Homo sapiens: one gene and its partners. The protein of the gene in region 3 interacts with the protein of the main gene of each other region in a pairwise test. Each region holds a gene or a part of one and is shown on either strand. Other genes may lie near its edges.

Region 1 (7,488 bases), on a different chromosome or scaffold from region 3:
TAAACATAGACATAGACACAGATATAGACACAGACATACACACACATACACAAAATCACAGACTTAGAAACACAAACACACATAAACATAGACATAGACACAGACACACGCACACATAGACTAAGTCACAGACTTAGAAACACAGGCACACAAATACACATAAACCTAGACATAGACACAGATATAGACACAGACACACACACACATAGACAAAGTCACAGACTTAGAAACACAGACACACAAATACACGTAAACATAGACATAGACACAGATATAGATATAGACACAGACACACACACACATAGACTGTCACAGACTTAGAAACATGGACACACAAATACACATAAACACAGACATAGACACAGACACAAACACACATAGATGAAGTCACAGATTTAGAAACACAGACACACAAATACACATAAACAAACATAGACATAGACACACACACATAGACAAAGTCACAGACTTAGAAACACAGGCACACAAATACAAATACACATAAACATAGACACAGATAGACACAGACGCACACACATAGATGAAGTCACAGACTTAGAAACACAGACACACAAATACACATAAACATAGACATAGACACAGACACACACGCACATAGACAAAGTCACAAACTTAGAAACACAGACACACAAGTACACATAAACATAGACATAGACACAGATATAGATACAGACGCACACACATAGATGAAGTCACAGACTTAGAAACACAGACACACAAATACAAATACACATAGACATAGACACAGACACACACGCACATAGACAAAGTCACAGACTTAGAAACACAGACACACAAGTACACATAAACATAGACATAGACACAGATATAGACACAGACGCACACATACATAGACTAAGTCACAGACTTAGAAACACAGACACAAAAATACACATAAACATAGACATGACACACACTCAGACACAACTACTGATAGACATAAACATAGACATAGACAGAAACAGACACAAGCACAGGCACAGACAAAGATATAGACATAGCATTGACATAGACATAGCCATAGACGAAGACATAGTCATAGACACAGACAAAAAACATGGACATAGACATACACTGAGACAAAGACACAAACACAGAAAAAAGACAAAGGCATAGACGCAGACACAGATATACACATACACATAGACATGGATGAAAATATAGACAGAGACAAAGACATAAACAGAGACATAGAAAAGACAGGACAAAGGCGTAGACATAGACAAAGATGAAGACATAGATAAAAAGACATACAGATATGGCCAATTACAAAGACAAAGACATACACATAGTCACAGTCATAGAGACACAAACTCAAACAGAGACAAAGATATAGAAAGACATAGGCAAAAACATAAACATAGACCAGACATAGATATAGATGTAGATGTATGGAGTTAAATGTGGACAATTAACTCATTAGTTTGTAAATAGAGCAAACTCTCAGACTTGTCAGTTTCAAGCCTAGCAGCTCCCTGCTAGGTGCACTCCACAGTCATCTCTAAAACCTATCTCTGACCTGTCCCTCCCTTCCTCAATCACCTTCCATGGCTCCCTAGTGCCCTCTTAATCAAGTTCAAATCCTTTCATCTGACATTTCACATGAAGCTCCCTTCTACTTCTTGAATTCAGATCCCAGAGAGGCCCACCTTGCTCAGCAGGAGTACATCAATGAAGTCCAAAGTCTTGGATTTGGCCTTGGCTTGGAGGAAGTCATCAACACCCTGGCTAGGGAGAGTGCGGCGCCGCTCCTGGATGACGGCATCTGTGAAGTCGTGCACCAGGCGGCAGGCCCTGCGGAAACGCTGCCCATCAGGGGTGAGATAATACAGGAAGTCAATATGCAGGAGGATCTCATGGTGTCTTTTTGATACAAGGGCACTGAGCTCCAAGATGGCGGCAATATATTCACTGGGTTTCCTGCAGGATAAGGGCAGAAAGGGAGGCAACAATTTAATATACCTGAAGCCCCAGGATCACCTCCCACCAGCAGCCAGGATCTACCTCCTATCAGTAAACAGAGTATCCAGGAACAGATGACCCCACAGATACAGGGTGGGGATCAGCATGAGATTGATTCTCCAAGCTCTCTTCTCTCCCTGCATCCCATCTCTGTGAGATGCCTCCATGCCGCTAGGCACCCAGAGCATAGCTTGCACATTATTCTCCTATTCTCTCTTTCCCTCCCAGTATACAGTCCTGACCCGTCTCCTTGAAACTGTCCACAAAGCTCAGACTTTATCCTCCTGCAACTGGTCCATGGTCTAGCTTTCACCCTAGCCTCTTTGCATCAGTGTTAACTCCATTTAGTGCTACATTAGTCAGTCCCCTACAGAGCTCTGACCACACCCACCAGTTCAAACCCCTTCAATGGCTCCCTGGAAACCTCAAGATAAAGTTCATACCAGTCCTTCAATGATCAGGTATAACAAAACTCCTCCAGGAAGGTTTGTCTGGTTTCCCTGCTTAGTCCTCCCTCTCCCACCTACCCACTTTGGGTCCACAGCCCAAGATCCCAGATCCTGGGCAAGAACTTACTCCTGACAATGGCTGTCAAAGCTGAAGACACATTTCTGTAGACTGTCCAAGGTCATGAGGCTGATGTGCTCAAACATATCCAAACAGGCACTACCCTCTGAGGCCAGGAGCTGCCACTTGGCCTAGCCAGAGAAGGGGACAGAGCTGGGGCAGGCTCCTTGCTCCCTTGAGCACCTCTCCAACCCCAACTGCCAAGATGGGCTCCCCAGAATAAGCCTCTTCATCTTCTCCCCAGGGACCCCTCCCCAGGGAGCACCAGGTTATGGTGCAAACAAAAGCTGTTACTATTAAGAGATGAAGACCCAAGATTGGGAGTTAGGAGAACTAGGTTCAAGTTCCAGCTCTGTCCCCTGTGCTCTGTGTGCCATTAGTCAACTCATTACCCTCCCCTATATCCTGCCTGTCAAATCTTCAGAAACAGTTAAGATGATGTGCTTTGGAGCCATATAATTCACATTAGAAACTCTGCTCCACCTCGCCATGCTCACTTATTAGCTGGGTGAACTTGGGTTAGTTCCCTAATCTCTCAGACCTGCAGTTTCATCATCTACCATGGGGCAAAAATACATAATCTCTCCTTCGCAGAGCTGTTAAAATCAAATTAGACAATACATACTCGTATCATGGAATGGGCACATGGCATTGTTTCTGGCATATGGTATGTGATCAATAAATGTTGGATTTCCCCGTCTGCATTGTTATAAATTGATTTCAAAAATATCCCTGTTTTGGGGGAGGTAGTCCTTCGTTGAGTCCTGAGCATTCTTTCTGGGCATGTCATGAATGCAAGACACTGATGTCCTTAACATGGAAAATTTCTCAGAGTTGTGTTTGCGAAGAAAAACTTTGAGGGATAAGGTAAAGACTCCCTCTAGACATGTTGCTTTTGCTTTCTATAAAAGCAGATTCCCTAAGCTTAAAGCTCCTCTTCTGTAATGCAATATATGATGTCAGCAGGCACTTATAGAAGCCCACCTGTGTCAGCCCATGGGATTTGGGAAGCTTGGAGGGAAAAAAGGCAATCTAACAAGAAACACATGCTGCTGTCTGTGTCATGAGTAGTAAACTATCCTTTGTCTCTGACCCAGGAGTCTCTCGTCCTTCTGGAAGAATTTATGAAACAGTAACAAGCTAACTTATCAATTTGCAAGTTAAAAAAAAAATCCTAGATACTTCGCAAAACCTTTGCCACAATTCTTCCCTTCCTGCCATATCCACACCCTTTGCAATGTGATTTTTCAGCAACTCCCATTAATAGACAGAGCCTATTTTATCCCCCTGCCTTTGATTCTGTGTTGGACTTTTGGCTTTCGATGTCAAAATACAATGTGGTGAAAATGATGAGTTAATAACTAACGAAGCTAAGCCTTGTCTTACTCCTTGGAACCCTGCCTGCATTGTGAACCATGGCGCGCCTTCTGGAAGGAGACAATCATAGGGAGGAACATCCAGGGGTCCCAGATGAGGCCAAACCTAGACACGTGAGAGAACCCAAACATGTCCCAGCCAAAACCCAAACATGTGGCAGAATTCAGTCAACACCTGCAAGGCTGCCTACCTGACCCCCAGCTGCTCATGTACCATGAGTGGTCCCTTCCATATACAGAAGAACCTGCCAACTGTCCCAAAGACTTATTAGCAAACATAAACACTTATTGGTTTAAACCAATGAGTTTTCAGGTGGTTTCTTATCAGCAACAGCTACTATGAAATTGTTGTCATGACCCTCTTGTGTTTACAGGGCTTTGGTGATGGAAACATAGAAACAGACACCTTCTGGGCACCTGCTATGCACCAGAGACGTGACTCCATTACATTACTCTGACCATCTTTTAAGTAGGGATTATTATCCCCATTTTACAGATGAGGAAACCAAGGCTCAGTGAGAAAGAGCAATGGCCCAATGGCACCCAGCAGAGCCAAAACTCCAGACTAGATCTCTCTGTTGTCCTTTCACCCCAAGGCTGCAAGTGGGACCTTGGCTTCAAATAACTCACGTGCATGATGTTCACACTCTCATTGAAAATCTTCATATAGGGCTTCAGGATGTTGAAATGGAAGGCAGGCGTCAGCATCCGACGGTGGCGGCTCCACTTGTCACCAGCACTCAGCAGGAGCCCATCCCCTAGCAGGGCAGCCAAGGGCCATGGGCAAGGACCTCTCCCTCCCCTGGCCCCCCAACGTTTTTCCCAACCCTGTTCACCTGCAGATACTCACCCAGCCAGGGCTCCAGGAAGCTGTAGAAGAACTTGTCCTTTGGTGCAATGGCAGCTGACATAAATGAGGACAATCAGGGGCCATGGAGGCAGGTGAAAGAGGGACTTTGGGGGTGGGTGGAGGCTCCCAGCAAGAGGTTTGCACTTCTCCCACTCTGAGCCCCACATAGCAGGAAGAGGGCCAAGGGCAGAGGAAGAAGGGAGGATGGGGAGGGGAGGGAAGACCAGACCAGGCTACAGCAGCACAGTACAGCAATGACACTGCCTAACATGGCGTGTAGGAGCTATGTCAGGGTTCCAGCATGCCTTGACATGCCTCCTACACGATCCAACATGTTCCGCAACCCCTGAGCACAGCTCAGCATTCTACAGAATGCTTCACAAGGACCTAGGACACCCTGTCTGTCCCAGCACTCTCTGACATCTTCTGATATGGCATCTTCTGACATGGACCTGGACATGAGACATGACCCTGACATGTGTTCACATGTCCTGACATGGCCACAAAATACATGACAATTCCTAACATGAGATGGTGTGCTCTAACATGCACATGAGATGGTCTAACATGATCTTAAAAGCGTGTTCCACATACAGGCTCTGGGTTGAATATAAATATGGTACCTTTAATGTCACAGACATAGCCAACATGTGAACCAGACTGTTCCTCAGGCATGACCCAAATATACTATAACACATGCCTCAGACAAGACTCAAATAATGTCTCAGACAGTTCACATAGGGACCCTGGGTCCCAGACCTCACACAACCCCCAGACCTCACACAACGCCCAGATGTTTGGACCACCAGGAGAAAACGGCAGTGTCAAACAGCACCTGAGACAAGAACCAAACAGGCCCTCACATGCCCCAAATGTCCTTGGCCACAGATAAGCCCCAAACTTGACCAGCTCTACATGACCCCAGTTGGAATTATATACCAGATGTAACCAGGTATAACATATTTCAGGTGTAACCAGGACCCAGGTGTAAATATACAAGGCAGACCTGGCCATATAACAGCCATTGTAGAGACACGCCCCAGACATGAGCAAACAGCAACAGAGGTTAGACAGGTGGAAGTCCAGGGGCGATGGAGGCAATGGCATCTCCACCACAGCCCCTCCTGTCTGCACATCGGTCACGTGTTCAGCTGGAGGCAGCACAGCAACCCCAGCTGTGGGCAAAGCTTGGCCAGTGCGATGTCTACCTGGAGCAAAGAGCACAGGCTTGATGCACGTGGGGAGAAAGATGTGGATGACTGCCTGCCAGGGCCCCACCCACCAGCAGCCCATATCCCCAAAGGTGCACGCCAGGCTTTGTGTGTATAGGAGACCTTCTTCTGAGCTGTGAATCTGGAGAAAAACACACAGGACCCAATTCATGCTCTCCTAGGCTGTGAGAGAGAAGGATCTGCAGGGAAGAGGTCGAAGCCCTCTCCCTGAGAATTTCAAGCAGCATCTCATCCTCCTGTCAGTGCTGAGCACCCCCTGCCTCCTCACATCCTCCATGCAGGACTCTCCAGTCCTTCAGTTACACAGACAGAAAAGGTCTTTCCCCATGTGGATCCACACACCATGTTCCCTGGGCTCTCATTCATCCCATTTTCCAGATGAAGAGCCTGAGGCTCTGAACAATAAAGTCACTTGCCCACAGTCCCAGACCACGGCAAGCCTGAGGCCTAAGACTAGGTCTGTCTGCACCCATGGCCTGAATCCTTAACCAACAAACTTCTTTGTGCCCCCAAAACAGTAGCTCTGGAAGACCCAGGCCTACCAAGACTGGGCAATCAGAGACACAGGGATTGGGTGAAAAATTGGTCCTGTGATCCAGGCCAGGAGAAGTAAACCATGGGCCATTTCTGGGAACTCTAGGGGAAAGGTGGCCTTTCCCATAAGAACTGAGCTTCTGGGACTCATCGTTGACATCATGAGGAAAAGGCCACCTTGATAGGAAAAGCGACATGGAGAAAGCTAAAGCCAAGAGAGAAAGACAGATTTCCAGTGACCTTGTGTGAGACCTGGATCCAGCCATGCCTGAAGGCCACCCTCCCTGGACTTTAAAGTCAATAGATTATCTTTCTTTGCTTAGACCACACCAGGTTGGGTTTCCACCACTCACAACTGAAAGAGACTTCAATAACCAGAGACAGCTGGGTACCAGCCCAGAGTCACTCAGCATTTTGAGGTCAGAGCCATGGTCTCTGTAGGATGCTGCCCATTCCCCCTGCTCAGCCTCGCCCGTCCAACGATGGGAAGCACAGGGGTCAAGGAAAGGGACCCAAGCTGGGGTGGAGTCTCCTCTTGGAGATCCCCGGGACCTGCAGCAGGAGAGCAACGAACTTAGGGCAGACAAGCTATAGGATGGGGTAAAGGGAATTGACCCACCAGAGGTGGACATCATGGAAGTAGCAGCCCAGATCCCCCACCAGCCACAAGTCCTCCTCATTGTTCTAGGCTTTGGGACAGGCAAGGTGATGCTAGGCCTGGCAAGGGGCCTTGAATACTAACGATGTCCAATTGCCTCACCCTGCACTCTCCTTTCAAACATTCCTACTCATTGTTCCAGACACAGCTCCAGTAACTCCTCCTCTAGGAAGCCTTCCAGCCTGCCCCAGCAGAGACCTTGTTCTTCCCTGGGCTGTGATCCATCTCCCTCTGGCCCTTTCCTGATCCCATGAAGTTGGGGATATCTCTATCCAGGTCCATCTCCTT
Region 2 (7,000 bases), on a different chromosome or scaffold from region 3:
CACCTCAGCCTCCCAAAGTGCTGGGATTACAGGTGTGAGCCACCGCGCCTGGCACATGGGTGTTTTAAAGTTAGTAGAATAGTGGGATCTGCATGGGAGGGGAGAACATGGCAGTGGGAAAGGCAGGAGGCCTTGATTCTCCATGTCTTCCTGATGCTAGGCAGGCCCAACGTCTCCATGCAGAACTATCCTGGAACAGGGAAGCATATGCAACACAAATCCATTGCTGAGTGGAAATAGAATGAATCTAATGCTTTGCACAGAATTCAACTCTCTGATCTATAATTCGATCTCCTGTGTGGCCATGCCCATAAAAAAGGCCACTATATGCAGATGACCAGCCCAACAGAAATCAGGGAATTTGGTTTTTAGGCTCCTTGAGTTAGTGTGATTGTCCTTGGCAGACACATCTTCTCTGGCCTCCAAGGGTCAGAATTGAGTTTCAAAGTCAGACAGAACTGTGAAGGCTGTGTCATCTTGGGCATGGTACTAAATTTCTCCGAGCGGCTCTATAAAACAGGGGAAAAGATCTTGGAGGGCTGTCATAAGGAGTTAGCAATCTAACAATGCATGGAAAGCCTAGTGTCTGGGTGTTCCGTCATGTCCCCTGGACAGTGGACAGCAGTGACTGACCGGCTGTCTCACACCTGCCTGGCCCTAGTGAAACAAACTGGGCAATCAGACCCTTTCATAACTCTTTCAAAATACGGTAGTTTTGACCAACAGCTTTCCAGCTTAATAACGCAGTTATCATTGGTACTCTTTAGCCAAGATTAAAGGTCTTTGTACTAATTCCTCATAAAGCACATTCCCTGCTAACTTGTTTTCTACAAAATTTTGGAAAATTCTTTTTTTCTCCAGCAGTTAAGCATTTTCTTAGCATGCAGCTAAAAATTTGAAATAAAATTTATCTTGGAGATAAATTCTTTTTCTTACATGTTTCTGATGATCTTCAGGAAGCTCAGGAGCCATTCCTGGCCCCAGGAGCTGCATTTATGCACGGGACTGTGGCCAGTGAGGACAGGAGCTTCCACTCGTGGAAAACCAGCTTGTTAATAATGATCCCACTTTTGTTTGGTAACTTAATAAAGATTAATAAAGGCCTCTTATACTCTTCAGTTTGCTGATCCTACCAACTCTATGAGCCAACTCTTACCTGTGTTTTATAGATGACAGAATTGAGGCTCAGAGGTGTAAAGTAATTCACCCAGTCACATGTCTAGAAAGGAAATGATAGAATCAGGACTGAAATCTAGATTATATTTGCTTAAATCCGGTTCTCATTCCATAGGTTATCAGGGTAGATGCTCGGGAAATTACACCACAGGGCGGGGGGCCTCCATCAGCAAAAACCAGCCAGAAAAAAACAGCTGTGTGTTCGGTCTTTCCAAACCCAGGACCAAGCCAGTGTTGAGTACATAAGAGGCCTTCAGTGGATATGGAAGGCGTAAGTTAATTTTGTTGGTGAATGAATAAATAAAAAGACTTTGAGAAATCTATTGGGATGAGGCTCCATGAAACTATATTTACTCAAAACCTTAGTTAAAAGATTGAATTTAAACAGTTTTTAATTTCTCTATGAAATTATTTCCGTCTCTTTTTAGGGGTAAAATAATTTTTCAACATATATCATCTCTAAAATAATCTGTTCACTCAAATGCAGTATAATGTCATAATTATTAACAGTTCCAGGTAGCCGACATCATTGTGAGAATGTCTTTATGTGATAAAACCTCAAAGTCATTTTTCTTCTTAGCATAAGTGGCATCAGCCAACCACAGAATTTTTTTAAGTCCCACTTTTTTCTCATACCCCACCAAAATTTCTTAATACCGTTAAAATCCAAAAATTTCTTTAAAATCATTCATGAAAAAGATTCTTAGAATTAACACCTCAGTTGTCCGAGCACCAGGAAGCCACATTACAGCTAGTGCAATACACAGAGACCGTCTGTCACCAATCATTTTCTTCTAGCGCGTCTGTTCTAGCCCCTTTCTCTTCCCTCCACACCCCATTGCACCATTTCTTCAGCTCGTGAAAACTGAGCTTGCTGGACATGAGAAACCTGCCAGTGTGCCGCTGTGTAAACCATAACATTTTGCTGCTGCCTTTCTGCAGTCCTGAAGCCAGCTAATAACTGCTCAGTAAGCGCCTCTTCCACAGCTTCCCTAGGTCCCTCTGTGTCTCTGGTGGACTGGGGCCTGCTCCCCTGTCTCCTAGCCTCTCTGAGTGCCTGAAGGCACCACCCCAGCGCTTCTGCATAACTCTCAAAGCCTCAGGTGAACAGGGCAAAGAGAGCACCCTCCCCACTGACTGTCTCCGCACTCTCCCTGGCATCTTTCACTTGCTTCAGGTGCCGTGAAGCTGATGAACCCACACACTCTGGAACACATTCTTTGGCGTCCCGTGTAGTGTGTCCCTCTGAGGGACATTCTTCATGATCCTTGCCGCATCTGCAGTGGGAACGCAAACATCTTGTTCTCCAAAACTTTCTTTTGAAGTATCTGTGGTTTCATGATTATTCCTGTTCCCAGTGTCAGCACAAGGCTGTGCAGCATGACTTCCTCCAGCGCAGTCTGCAGAAATCCGGAGTCGAGAAGCCTCTGTCCTAGCACTGTCCCTATCCTAGGTCATGAAAGACTGTGATTGATGTTCAAGACACCTCTGTAACGAGATGTTTGATCTTTACCCAGTTTCAACCTTCCAGACAAGCCCAGGGGCCATAATTTGCCAGATGGATGGCTGCATAAGCCAGACCATGGAAAAACAAAGGCCATTCCTGCACAATCACCCCCACCCCATGACCTCGTTCCCTCCCCACGATGGTGCCCGCAGCAGTCCCGCCCCACAACCCGGCCCTCCTGACCCGTCAGTACCAGGTGTGCGGGGCACATGCCCTCAGCGCATCTCTGCCTTGCCCGGGGCCAGCAGGTGCACGCCGGAATGCTGCGGACCAACCAAGTGGCCCGGCCAGCCCTGACCCCTGCGGGTGGAAAAGGGTGCACCCTGGGGATCCCCACATAGCGGCCAAGGCCTTAAGGATACCAGCATCTCGCTCCCTGAATAGACTCTAGACACAAAATGGAGCCAGCACAGGGCGCGTCTCGGCGCATCCTCCTCAGCCCAGGCCCCGTGCGTAAGGAGCGCTCCGTGTCAGCGCGCTTGCTAGACCCCATTGATTTTTAGAGACGGGTTTTACTATGTTGCCCAGTGTGGTCTCCAACCTCCTAGGTTCAAGCAGTCCTTCCACCTCAGTCTCCCAAGTAGCCAGGATTACAGGTGCGCACCACCACGCTCAGTGCTGTTGACTTTAATGTGAATAGGAAATAAGTTTTGATGTTTGTTTGTTTTTTAAGTGGGGCTCCTGTTTTTTAAAAATGGATCAATTTACCTGGAGTGCAGGCTGCTCCTGAGCTTGAAGGTGGAAGTCAGTTCATGCGTGAAAGAAGTCTTGCCTAATTGAAACATGGCATCACGGTTAATAATTAAAATGTTATCTGATTTGAGATCAGCTGTTTTTGTGAGAATGCTAATGTGGCATTCCTGATTAGTCTGTATGTTTGTTTGTTTGATTTTTAATTCTGGGTGCAGAGGAACACAGATTATCAAATCCAGTTGGTATTTCTTATGCCACTATAGTACAACTTGAAATCCCTTTTAAGTAGAGGAAACAGTGTTGTATTCATTTCCTATTGCTGTTATAACAAATTACTACATATTTGAGTAGCTTAAAGCAACACAGATATATTATCTTAGAGTTCTGGAGGTCAGAAGTCTAGAACAAGTGGGCCTTCCTTCTGGAGGCTCTAGGGCAGAGCCCCTTTCCCTGCCCTTTCCAGCTGCTAGGGGCTGCAGCTCACAGCCCAGCATCACTCCAACCTCTGCTTGTTCCCACATCTGTTTCTCTGGCTCTGCCTCTTCTGCCTCCTTCCATCTCTTATAGGGAGCCTTGTGATGACATTGGGCCAACCAAATATTCCAGGATCATGCCTGCATCTCTCAAGATCCTTAACTTAATCATATCAGCAAAGTCCCTGCACCATGTGAGGTAACATATTCACAGTAGTAGGTGCTCAATAAATAGATACTAAAGATAGCAGCATTTTTTATTAGACCTTCTCACAGCTTCTGGGGATTAGAATGAGACATCTTTGGCAGCCATTGTTCTCCCCATCATGGGTAACATGCAGTGGGCGCTTCCAGTGCCAGGATTTCGGTGGGTTTAACTGGAGTGTGCAGATAAGTAGTTGGCGTCAAGAACTCCTGCTGCTTCCCTTGCTGGAAAGATGGGGTGGCTTTGAATGACATCCCAGAATCTGATTCTTCCGTCTGCGGAATGTGCATAGGATGTCTGAATCACACTATTGTCGTGAGAAATGAGGTAGAATATTCTCTGATGTGGCAAGCTTAGGCCAGCATCTAGCCCAATTCCTTGTATATAATGGAAATTCTTAAGATGTTAGGGTTCCCCTCTCCCTCTCTCTCCTTTTTCCTCGCCTACAAAGGAAGACATCTTTTGTGAGGCCTCCACAGCATTCTTGATCACTTGTACTTAGAGTAACCTTAAGGTTATTGTAGTATAGAACTTCATAGTGTAAAGGTCAAGTTTTTATTTAAAGGAAAAAAGTGGGGGGGCCTCCAAGATATCATTTCTCTGCAGACATTAATTGGTGTCATACTTCAAGAAAAATGGCTAGAAAAGAGTGGTGAGTGGAAAGCTGGCCAGTGCCCTGGAGGCTGCTCCTGCTTTGAGTTCTCCCGGACTTGTTTCTGCTGCCAGCATCTGCCATGCAACCTGGGCAAGTTATTTCCCCTCTGGACCTCAGCTTCCGCATAATAAGCGCATTGGATAAATCATTTTTCAGACTATCCAGTTCTTATACATGATAATACTTATATTTTATAGAGTAACCATATTTTTGGCTGGGTGCAGGGAATCACACCTGTAATCCCAGCATTTTGGAGGCCAGGGTGGGCAGATCACTTGAGCCCGGGAGTTCGAGACCAGCCTGGGCAATAGAGTGAAACCCTGTCTCTACAACCAGTACAAAAATTTAAAAAAACAGAAACTAGCTGGACATGGTGGCAGACGCCTGTAGTCCTAGCTGCTCGGGAGGCTGAGGTGGGAGGATCACCTGAGCCCAGGACGTCAAGGCTGCAGTGAGCTATGATTGCACCACTGCACTCCAGCCTGGGTGACAGAGTGAGACCCTGTCTCAAAATAAATAAATAAATAATAAAGTAACCAATTCTAAAATGAGACCGTGATGGCGGCAGCTTGCCCTAAAGGTTGCCTTATATTTAACAAATTAGGGATAGTTTGTTATTAGGAACTAGAATTCTATAAAAGCTACATATTAATTTTTGTTTTCATTATTTATGTTAAGCATGAAGGAAAAATAGTGATAGTGAGAATTATAGTTAAAAGGGAAGAGAGATTCCTTGGTATTCAATTTTCTGAGAAAAACCCATATCAGATCTTCACCGGGGAACATCACAGATCACCTAGGCCCGAGGGCAGGCACAGGAGGGTAAAGAAGGGTGCAGGGAAGGAAATGGCTCACGGCCTCATGTACAGCCACAGCCTGGTGTCCGTCCAGCATGAAGTCCACACCCAGAGCCATGCTGAATCCCACGCCCAGCCTTATGCTGGACCTCCTGGATCAGAACCTCTAGAAGGAGGATAGTATTTGTCTTTATAAGAAGCTCTCCAGGTGATTTTGATGTGTTCCATTGGTGCAGAACCATCAGTCTGCACTAGCAGCTTTGCAGGAATAAACGGTTTCCCAAGGAGGGGAGGTTTAACGTGTTGTTCCTCTTGCTACCACCATCATTGCTGTTAAATCCACCTCCTCCCGCTTCACTATCCAGAAATGGAAGTGACCGGCTACCAAGGTGTCTTCCTTTTGGCCAGTCGGGCTACCAATAGATTTACCTCTCATCTTTCAGGATGCCACTCTCTCCTGGTTTTGCACCCACCAGTCACTCCCCAGCCCACTTTGCTGTGCCTTCAGTCCTTTCTGACCTCTTCACACCACAGTCCTTGGATCTCTTTATTTACCTTCACTTCCCTGGTGATCTCATCACATCGCATGACTTTAAATATAATCTCTGTCTGACAACTCCCACGGATAATCTCCAGATTACACTTCTCCCCTGAACTTAGACCTACTTACTCTGCTGCCCGCTGGACATCTCCACTTGCTGCCTCCTGGGTGCCTCACGCTTACTCCGTGCAAATCTGAGCTTCCTGTCTTCTCCCTCGGCCCTCTCCACCTCCAGTTTTTCCAACTAAATACCTCAGGAACCATGCTTTTTCTTTCTCTCACATCCCACATCTAAGATGTCAAGAAATCCTGCTGGCACCATTGAAGAAATACCCAGAATTCCAGTACCTCTTGCCACCTGCGCTGCCCCCCAGCTCTGTCTGGATCTCTGCAGTAACCTTGTCACTGTTCCTCCTGTGTCCGCTCTTATCTCCCCACTGTCTGTTCTCCACACAGCAGCCAGAGAGATCCTTTTAAATTGTGCGTCCGTTCATTTCGGTCCTCTCATCAGAACCTTCCAGTGACTCCCATTTGTTGCAGAGTGAAATGCAAAGGCCTTACAGTGGCTCCATAACCCACATCATCTGACTCCAACCTGAGCCATTACATCTCTTACCTCCTCATCTCCCATCTCCCACTTCCTCACTCCGCCCCAGCTCATGCCTTCTTGCTATTCTTTGAAGACACCAGATGCATTTCTTTTTTTTTTTTTTGAGACGGAGTTTCGCTCTTGTTGCCCAGGCTGGAGTGCAATGGCACGATCTCGGCTCACCGCCATCTCCGCCTCCCAGGTTCAAGCCACTCTCCTGCCTCAGCCTCCCGAGTAGCTGGGATTACATGCATGCACCACCACGCCTGACTAATTTTGTATTTTTAGTAGAGACAGGGTTTCTCCATGTTGAGGCTGGTCTCGAACTCCTGACCTCAGGTGATCCGCCCGCCTCGGCCTTCCA
Region 3 (7,488 bases):
TTATTTATTTTTGAGATGGAGTCTCATGTTGTTGCCTAGGCTGGAGTGCAGTGGCCCGACCTCAGCTCACTACAACCTCCTACAACCTCCACCTCTTGGGTTCAGGCGATTTTCCTGCCTCAGCCTCAGCCTCTCGAGTAGCTGGGATTACAGGAGTTCTGCCATCACATTCAGCTAATTTTTGTATTTTTAGTAGAGACAGGGTTTCACCATGTTGGCCAGGCTGGTCTTGAACTCCTGACTTCACATGATCCACCCGCCTCAGCCTCCAACGTGCTGGGATTACATGCGTGAGCCACAGCACCCGGACCCTTTCAGCATTTTAAATGTGCCATTACATTGTATTCCTGCTCCCATGAATTCTGATAAAATGTCAGTGGTCATCTTCTCTCCTTGCTCTTTTTTCTCTCTCTGGCTGATTTTAAGGTCTTGTCTTTGCCTTTGTTTTTTAGTAATTTGACTTTAATGTGTCTTAGTGTAGTTTTCTTTGTGTTTATACTGCTCAGGCCTCCTCGTGCTTTGTGGATCTCTAGGTTGATATTTTTCATCAAATTTGGAAAAGTTGTAACTATTATTTCTTCAAAAAAAAAAAAAAAAAAGAAAAGAAAAACTGTAAAACAGAAAACCCAAAACAAAAAACTGCCCCAATTTCTTTCTTCTTTTGTTCATTTTTAAATCACTCTTTTCTCTCATGCTTCAGTTTGTATAGTTTCTACAGACCTGGCTTCAAGTTCACTGAACTTTGCTTCTGCAATATCCAATCTGTTATTAAATCCCTCCAATAATTTTTTTTTCTTAAGACATCACAGTTTTCGGATCTAGAATCTCCATGTGGATTCTTCTTCATAGTCTCCAGGTATTTTCTGAGATTCCTCATCTGTTTTAAACTCCCTGTGTGTGAATCTCAGTATCTCTCCCGTCTTTTGATCTGTGTCTATTGATCTGTTTTCCCTTAGGTATGTGTCACTTTCCAGTTTCTTGCCCATCTGGTAATATTTATTATATATTTATTATTTATTTTATTACATTATTATTGATTTATTTCTGATAATATTTACTTATGGTACATGCTAAGTTGTTACAGTAAAGATTCTGTTGTATTCCTTTAAAAATTGTTGAGTTTTGTTCTGTTAGGCGGTTTATTTACTGGAGGATCAATTTTATCCTTTCAAGGTTTGTCTGGGCCTTGTTATGGCAGTTCTAGAGTAGCCCTCCCTCTAGGGATAGAGTAGCTCTACTCCTAAGCTGTGGCCTTGGCAGGGTCAGCTGAGTGCCTGGGATGTCCAGCACCATCTCTGAACTCTGCTTGGTTGGAACTTCAATGTCTTTCAGCACTGGGAACTGTCCGGAATTTCCATTTATCTTCCAGCCTTCTAAGAGTTATTTGCAACTGGAGCTTGCAGAGTTTTGGCCCGTACAACATTCAGCTTGATATCTGGACAACGACTCACGGAAACTGCTTCATGGATTTCTGAAGCATCCTCCCTGAGCGGCTTCCTCCTCTTCCATACCCTGCCCCACAAACTGCAGCCATGTCAGTAACCTGAACTGTAATTTCTGTTTCCTCCACCCAGGCTGCTGTTCTCTGGGCTTTACCTCCTTTTGTTGCTGTTTGGAAAGTGTCTCCAGGGAAACTACTGGGGTGAATTCAAAGCTCATTTTCTTGGTTTCTCTTCCTTCAAGGATCACAGTCCTGTACTGTTTGGGTTCAGAGCCAAAAAAACAGTTGCCTTTATTCTTTTTCTAGTTTTACAGTTCTTTATGGCAGAAGGGTAAGTCTGAGACCCATGATTCTGGCCAGAACCAAAGATTCGCATTTTCATTCATTCTGTTACTGTGTTAGTGGCTTTTGAGGTCCTTTGTGATCTGGACTCTTGTCTAGCTCTCCAGCTTTATTACAAGACTTGTGCTACCTGCATACCTGCCCCCACCATGCATATGTACATAACTCAAGCTGGTACATGTATTTTATGTTACAAACAATGAGCTATTTTCATTTCTCCAAAGATGCTGGTGCTTCCCCCTTCTCTGGGCTTCCTTCATGCTGTATTCTCTACCTGTAACACTTGCCTCACCCCTACCATCTCTCAGCTTCTACATGTTTTTCCAAATCAGCTGAAATATCACTTCCTCTGGTACTTCTGTCATGTTCGCATAGCAGCCTGAACTTTCCCCCATCAAATATTTTATCAAATTTCATGATCTCTTTTTCTTTAATAGGAACTGCATTTGCCTGCTTGACTCTAAGTTCTATGAAGGCAGTGTGGGGGATCATCCTGCTTGATTATCACAAACATTAGTCACCTGCTATTGTACCACTTATGGAAATGTCAATTTCAAATTTAGGCTAGTAAAATTACTGGATAAACCTGCTCTTATGATACCCAGAGGGAATTTGCTTGAAATTCTACTCTATTAAGCTGCACAAACCTTGCTTATATTGCTTGGGGTGTCCTGAAATGCCTTCTAACTATATGGCCTTCAAGGCTGATTTTCTCATTTCTGTCCTTTAACTCCTCCTCCTTACCATTCCCTGTTGCTTTTACCATCTATATGTATTTTGGGTGCTAGGTAATTATTAAAGCCATCATAAACCTCGTATCTCAAAGAAATATATTTTGTTATATTCTCATGAAGACATCCCCTGAAAAAACAGAACCAGATTTGAAACTTTTAAACCTTTTATAGGTGTTTTTGTGACCAGGAAAAAAACTATCACAGAATTATGTTCTTACAGCCAGGCGTGATGGCTTACGCATATAATCTCAGCACTTTGGGAGGCCGAGGCAGGTGGATCACCTGAGCTCAGGAGTTCAAGAACAGACTAGCCAACTTGGTGAAACCCCATCTCTACTAAAAATACAAAAAATTAGCCAAGGGTTGCAGCCCGCATCTGTAATCTCAGCTACTTAGGAGGCTGAGGTGGGAGAATCACTTGAACTCAGGAGGCGGAGGTTGCAGTGAGCCAAGATCGCTCTACTGCACTCCAGCTGGGCAACAGAGCAAGACTTTGTCTCAAAAAAAAGAAAAAAAAAAAAAGGTTCTTACAATGTGCCTATGAGATTAGGAGTGAAATCCTAAGTACAGTTCTTCTGAACAATGTAGGCTCAGAAGGGTTCAAACGAAACACCTTGGGACCTCCTTAGTTAATATAGTGCCTAGAGCCTAAGATACTGCAATATATAAGCTAAAGGGCTGGTAACCAGGTGGATGGAACCATGAAGTCGTAATAATATATTTTCATTTCAAAAAGACAGACACACACAGACTTCTCAACAGTAATTCAATTTGAAAGGGAATTCAAATATATACATGCAACTGCCTATTACAGGTAATGTTACACTTTACCCACGAAAATCCCCAAAAGATATTTTCAAGCAAAGTAAAAGAAAAAAAAAAGTGCTTGCCTTAGAAAACAGAACAAACAAACAAAAAAAGTGCTTGACTTACGACTTAAAAGCAAGGGAAAGGAAAAGTAAGAGTAAAGGGATTTGAAAAATACCTCTCTGAACCTATTCTGGTTCTGATTCAGGAAAGTACCATAAAGACAGAAACATACCTGAATTTATAGCTTTCCCAAACTGTACACGGTACCTAGTGCAAGCTTACGAGTTGCTGGCACACTTCATTATTTTTATTATTTTTTTGAGACAGGGTCTCGCTCTGTTCCTCAGGCTGTAGGGCATGAACACAGCTCACCACAGCCTCAACCTCCTGGGCTCAAGCAATCCTCCTGCCTCAGCCTCCCATGTAGCTGGGACCACAGGCACATGCCACCATGCCAAGCTAAACACTTCATTATTTATAAGTTCTTTTTCTTTTGAGCCTCTATTTAATGGACATAACTTTATAAAGAAAAGCTACATATCATATCCATAATCATGTTAAGTTCCAGCAGCTTAAAAGAAAATAACTAAAATTCTGAAGCCATGTCTTACCATTGATGTCACCACCAAGGCTGGAGAGAATCCCATTGTGAGATAGAAAAAGAGTTCAACCACCTTATATCTGCAGGAACAAAAATGCAGTTAATTTAACTTATAAATTTCTATAACACCTAACAATTTACATACCAGCCTTTCCTTTTTACTTTTGAGAAAGAAATGTAAACTCTTAACTATTCAAATAAAACTTTATTTCTCAGTAGGCAACCACTAGGCCTCTAACTAAAACACAGTAGCTGAGTAACAAGGAACTAGCATTTCTCTCAGGGTTGAAAAGGCATCAAATCCCACATGCCACCTAGAAAATGTTTTCTGCCGGCCGGGCACGGTGGCTCATGCCTGTAATCCCAGCACTTTGGGAAGCCGAGGCGGGCGGATCACGAGGTCAGGAGATCGAGACCATCCTGATTAACACGGTGAAACCCGTCCCTACTAAAAATACAAAAAATTAGCTGGGCGTGGCGAGCGCCTGTAGTCCCAGCTACTCGGGGAGATGAGGCAGGAGAATGGCGTGAACCCGAATGGCGTGAACCCGGGAGGCGGGGCTTGCAGTGAGCCGAGATCGCACCACTGCACTCCATCCAGTCTGGGTGACAGAGCGAGACTCAGTCTCAAAAAAAAAAAAAAAAAGAAAAGAAAAAAAAAAGAAAATGTTTTCTGCCAAAAGTAGTTATCGTTTAACCCACTCCACCTTGTAAAATATTTCCTCTTCTGATCCTAGAGTGTCTGCTTTCATTACCATTCCAATCCAGAGCTAGAAGTGAAATTCTGAAGATGAATGGAGATGCAGCCTGGAGCCTAGTTTATCAGCAAAAAGGAACAGCAAGCCCTAAGGAAAGGACGTGTAATTTTGTTTGTCTCTTTATTTTGCACCTGCACAAACTGTAATTTTAAGGCTCATCACGTTAGACTACAAAAGATCTAAAAACCCTAAGAAATACATTGTATTGAAATTCAAATTACATTTCAGCCTAATCAAACCAGACGATAAGCTCCTCAAAGGCAGGAACCAAGATTAATTATGTTTTGATCTGTAAATCCTAGAACAGTACCTGATACAATTTAGGTACTCCCTAATGTCTGCCAAACTGAATGGCCAAGGGTGACTCATACCTCATTCATCGTGTTTTATACTCAAAGCCTACCATGAAATAATCAGATAGGGGAAGAATGGGTTTATGGGTTTTGTTTACACCAGAAGGCCGGGAAAAGGAGAAAAGATAGTTGCCTTTCTTGACTTCCTATTTTATCCAAGGATATAAATAAGAGATTTGAGTCCAAGAAGCAAACCATTCCCTTGGACTTAAATATGCTATAATATATAACACTACTCAGCATTGCTAATTATGGTCAAAAAGGTATTTAAGTGAATTTCAGAGACAAAAAGAAGTTAGTGAAAACTACCATTTTCTTCTTCTGAAAGGGGAAAACAATTTAGTATTTTCTGATAAACACAAATTATGTTCAATTCTGAGAGCCATTCTGCCAAGCACAATAGATACAGAATTTAATGAACTGTAAATAAACCCAATGACAAAGATTTCCTGGTTGTGTGTTTCTCAAATTCAAACATACAGGGTAATAAAAAGAGCAATGGAATCAGAACTTGGATGTTTGGGTCCTAATTTCCAGATGAGTCACTAATTTGATGCATATCCTAAATGTTCTGACTTTTTAATCATGAAGTTGGAATAGGGGACCTTGAAGGTCTCCTCTAGAGCAAAGATACTAAATTTCAATTAGCTTTTGTTTTTATATGGCTCAATAATTAGGACTATCAGCTATGAATAACTGGCTAAAAAGCTGTGCCCTAGGGATAGGATATTAAGAGTTCCAATGTCCTTCCCAACATCCTTTTTCTCAAGATACCCTTTTTGGAATACCCTCTAGGCCCTTATTTAGGTATATTGTACTGAGCACTTAATATCTATTCTCTCCAATCTTCATAGACACCTTGACAAGTGGCTGGTTTTCTCACGTGATGACTGAATCACAGAGAATAAGGCCAATTTGCCTCATGCTATAGAAATGAAGTCTGATGGACTCCAAAGGGGCTGGTTACCATGTCCCCTCAACTACATTATACCAAACCTGTACCACTCTTGTTTTTCCACAGCAATCTTTCCACTAATAATGAATACCAAATGGTTTTGAAGATTTATTAAAAATAACATATTCTATATATGTATTTCTACTGTTTTGAAGTACAAATAAAAGTAAATTGTATTGCAGTGCAGATAATATTTAGGCAGTCAATTTTAAAACTATCAAATGTAAATTATTTTCTCTTACTTTTCATGGTAGAGAAATACATAAATGGTTCCTCCAGCTGCCATGAGCCAGATAAACCAACGCATATGAGATGCCAGGGGTCCAAGTTCACGAAGATTTAACCTAAAAATGTAAACGTGACAACAAAGAACAGAAGTGATAAATGAAGGGAATTCATAGAACCTGTGTCATTGAAAACTGAGAAAGTCTTAGGATAAGAGCAGGAAGAAAACACACTCAACACATCAAGCAGGCATTTGGGCAATTTAGGTAAAATTAAGCAACTCAAAAACAAATTTGTCAGTCGACCTTTAAGACTCAGAATTAGGCCGGGAGTGGTGGCTCACATCTGTAATCCCAGCACTTTGGGAGGCCGAGGCAGACGGATCACTTGAGGTCAGGAGTTCAAGATCAGCCTGGCCAACATGGTGAAACCCCATCTCTACTAAAAATACAAAAATTAGCCAGGTGTGGTGGCATGTGCCTGTAATCCAAGTTGCTCGGGAGGCTGAGGCAGGAGAATTGCTTGAGCCCGGGAGGCAGAGGTTGCAGTGAGCTGAGATTGCACCACTGCACTCCAGTCTGGGCGACAGAGCAAGACTCCACCTAAAAAAAAAAAAGAATTAGTTTCAACATGGTTTAAAAATAGAACCAGCTAAAAGCAGACAAGTTGAAGGGAGTCCCAGCACTCTTATGACGCCTAACTTACCCTATTAGGCAGAATGAGGTCAAAACTGCTTGCCCTTTAATTTCTGACCATGTATTTGGGAGCAGATTACTTACAAACCTTAATGAGAAGAACCTGGAACAAAATTTTGACGCAGGATCAGATACCCACAGTGGATACCTAATACACAAACCAAGTGTGTCTCCATTATCAGTCTCTCTGCCAAGAGAGAGTATGAGAAGAATTATTCCTAACATGTATTATGGAAGACATTTTGGTAGAATTTAACCATGGACTGTTGTGAGGTTTGAATTTTAAAATGCTGCAAATTCATTTGTACTAATTTCATATTAAGAATACATGAGAAGTTCAGGAACAGTGGCTCACACCTGTAATCCCAGAACTTTGGGAGGCCAAGGCAGGCAGATCACTTCAGGTCAGGAGTTCAAGACCAGCCTGGCCAACATGGTGGAACCCAGTCTCTACTAAAAATACAAAAGTTAGCTGGGCATGGTGGTGGGCACCTGTAATTCCAGCTACTAGGGAGGCTGAGGCAGGAGAATCGCTTGAACCCAGGAGGTAGAGGTTGCAGTGAGCTGAGATCGC

The links.
Region 1: the proteins of MMD (region 3) and CYP4F2 interact in binary tests that used the Homo sapiens proteins (3 or more experiments, as listed by UniProt).
Region 2: the proteins of MMD (region 3) and SFXN1 interact in binary tests that used the Homo sapiens proteins (3 or more experiments, as listed by UniProt).

What each region holds. Positions count from the first base shown.
Region 1 is NC_000019.10:15,887,753-15,895,240, forward strand, and holds part of CYP4F2 (cytochrome P450 4F2 precursor), read right to left. Parts: intron 4,831-7,488; coding exon 4,777-4,830; intron 4,685-4,776; coding exon 4,557-4,684; intron 2,682-4,556; coding exon 2,560-2,681; intron 1,942-2,559; coding exon 1,671-1,941; intron 1-1,670. UniProt on the Homo sapiens protein: A cytochrome P450 monooxygenase involved in the metabolism of various endogenous substrates, including fatty acids, eicosanoids and vitamins.
Region 2 is NC_000005.10:175,481,560-175,488,559, forward strand, and holds part of SFXN1 (sideroflexin-1), read left to right. Parts: intron 1-7,000. UniProt on the Homo sapiens protein: Amino acid transporter importing serine, an essential substrate of the mitochondrial branch of the one-carbon pathway, into mitochondria.
Region 3 is NC_000017.11:55,397,531-55,405,018, forward strand, and holds part of MMD (monocyte to macrophage differentiation factor), read right to left. Parts: intron 7,018-7,488; coding exon of another isoform or gene 6,921-7,017; exon of another isoform or gene 6,784-6,920; intron 6,339-6,783; coding exon 6,237-6,338; intron 4,009-6,236; coding exon 3,939-4,008; intron 1-3,938. UniProt on the Homo sapiens protein: Involved in the dynamics of lysosomal membranes associated with microglial activation following brain lesion.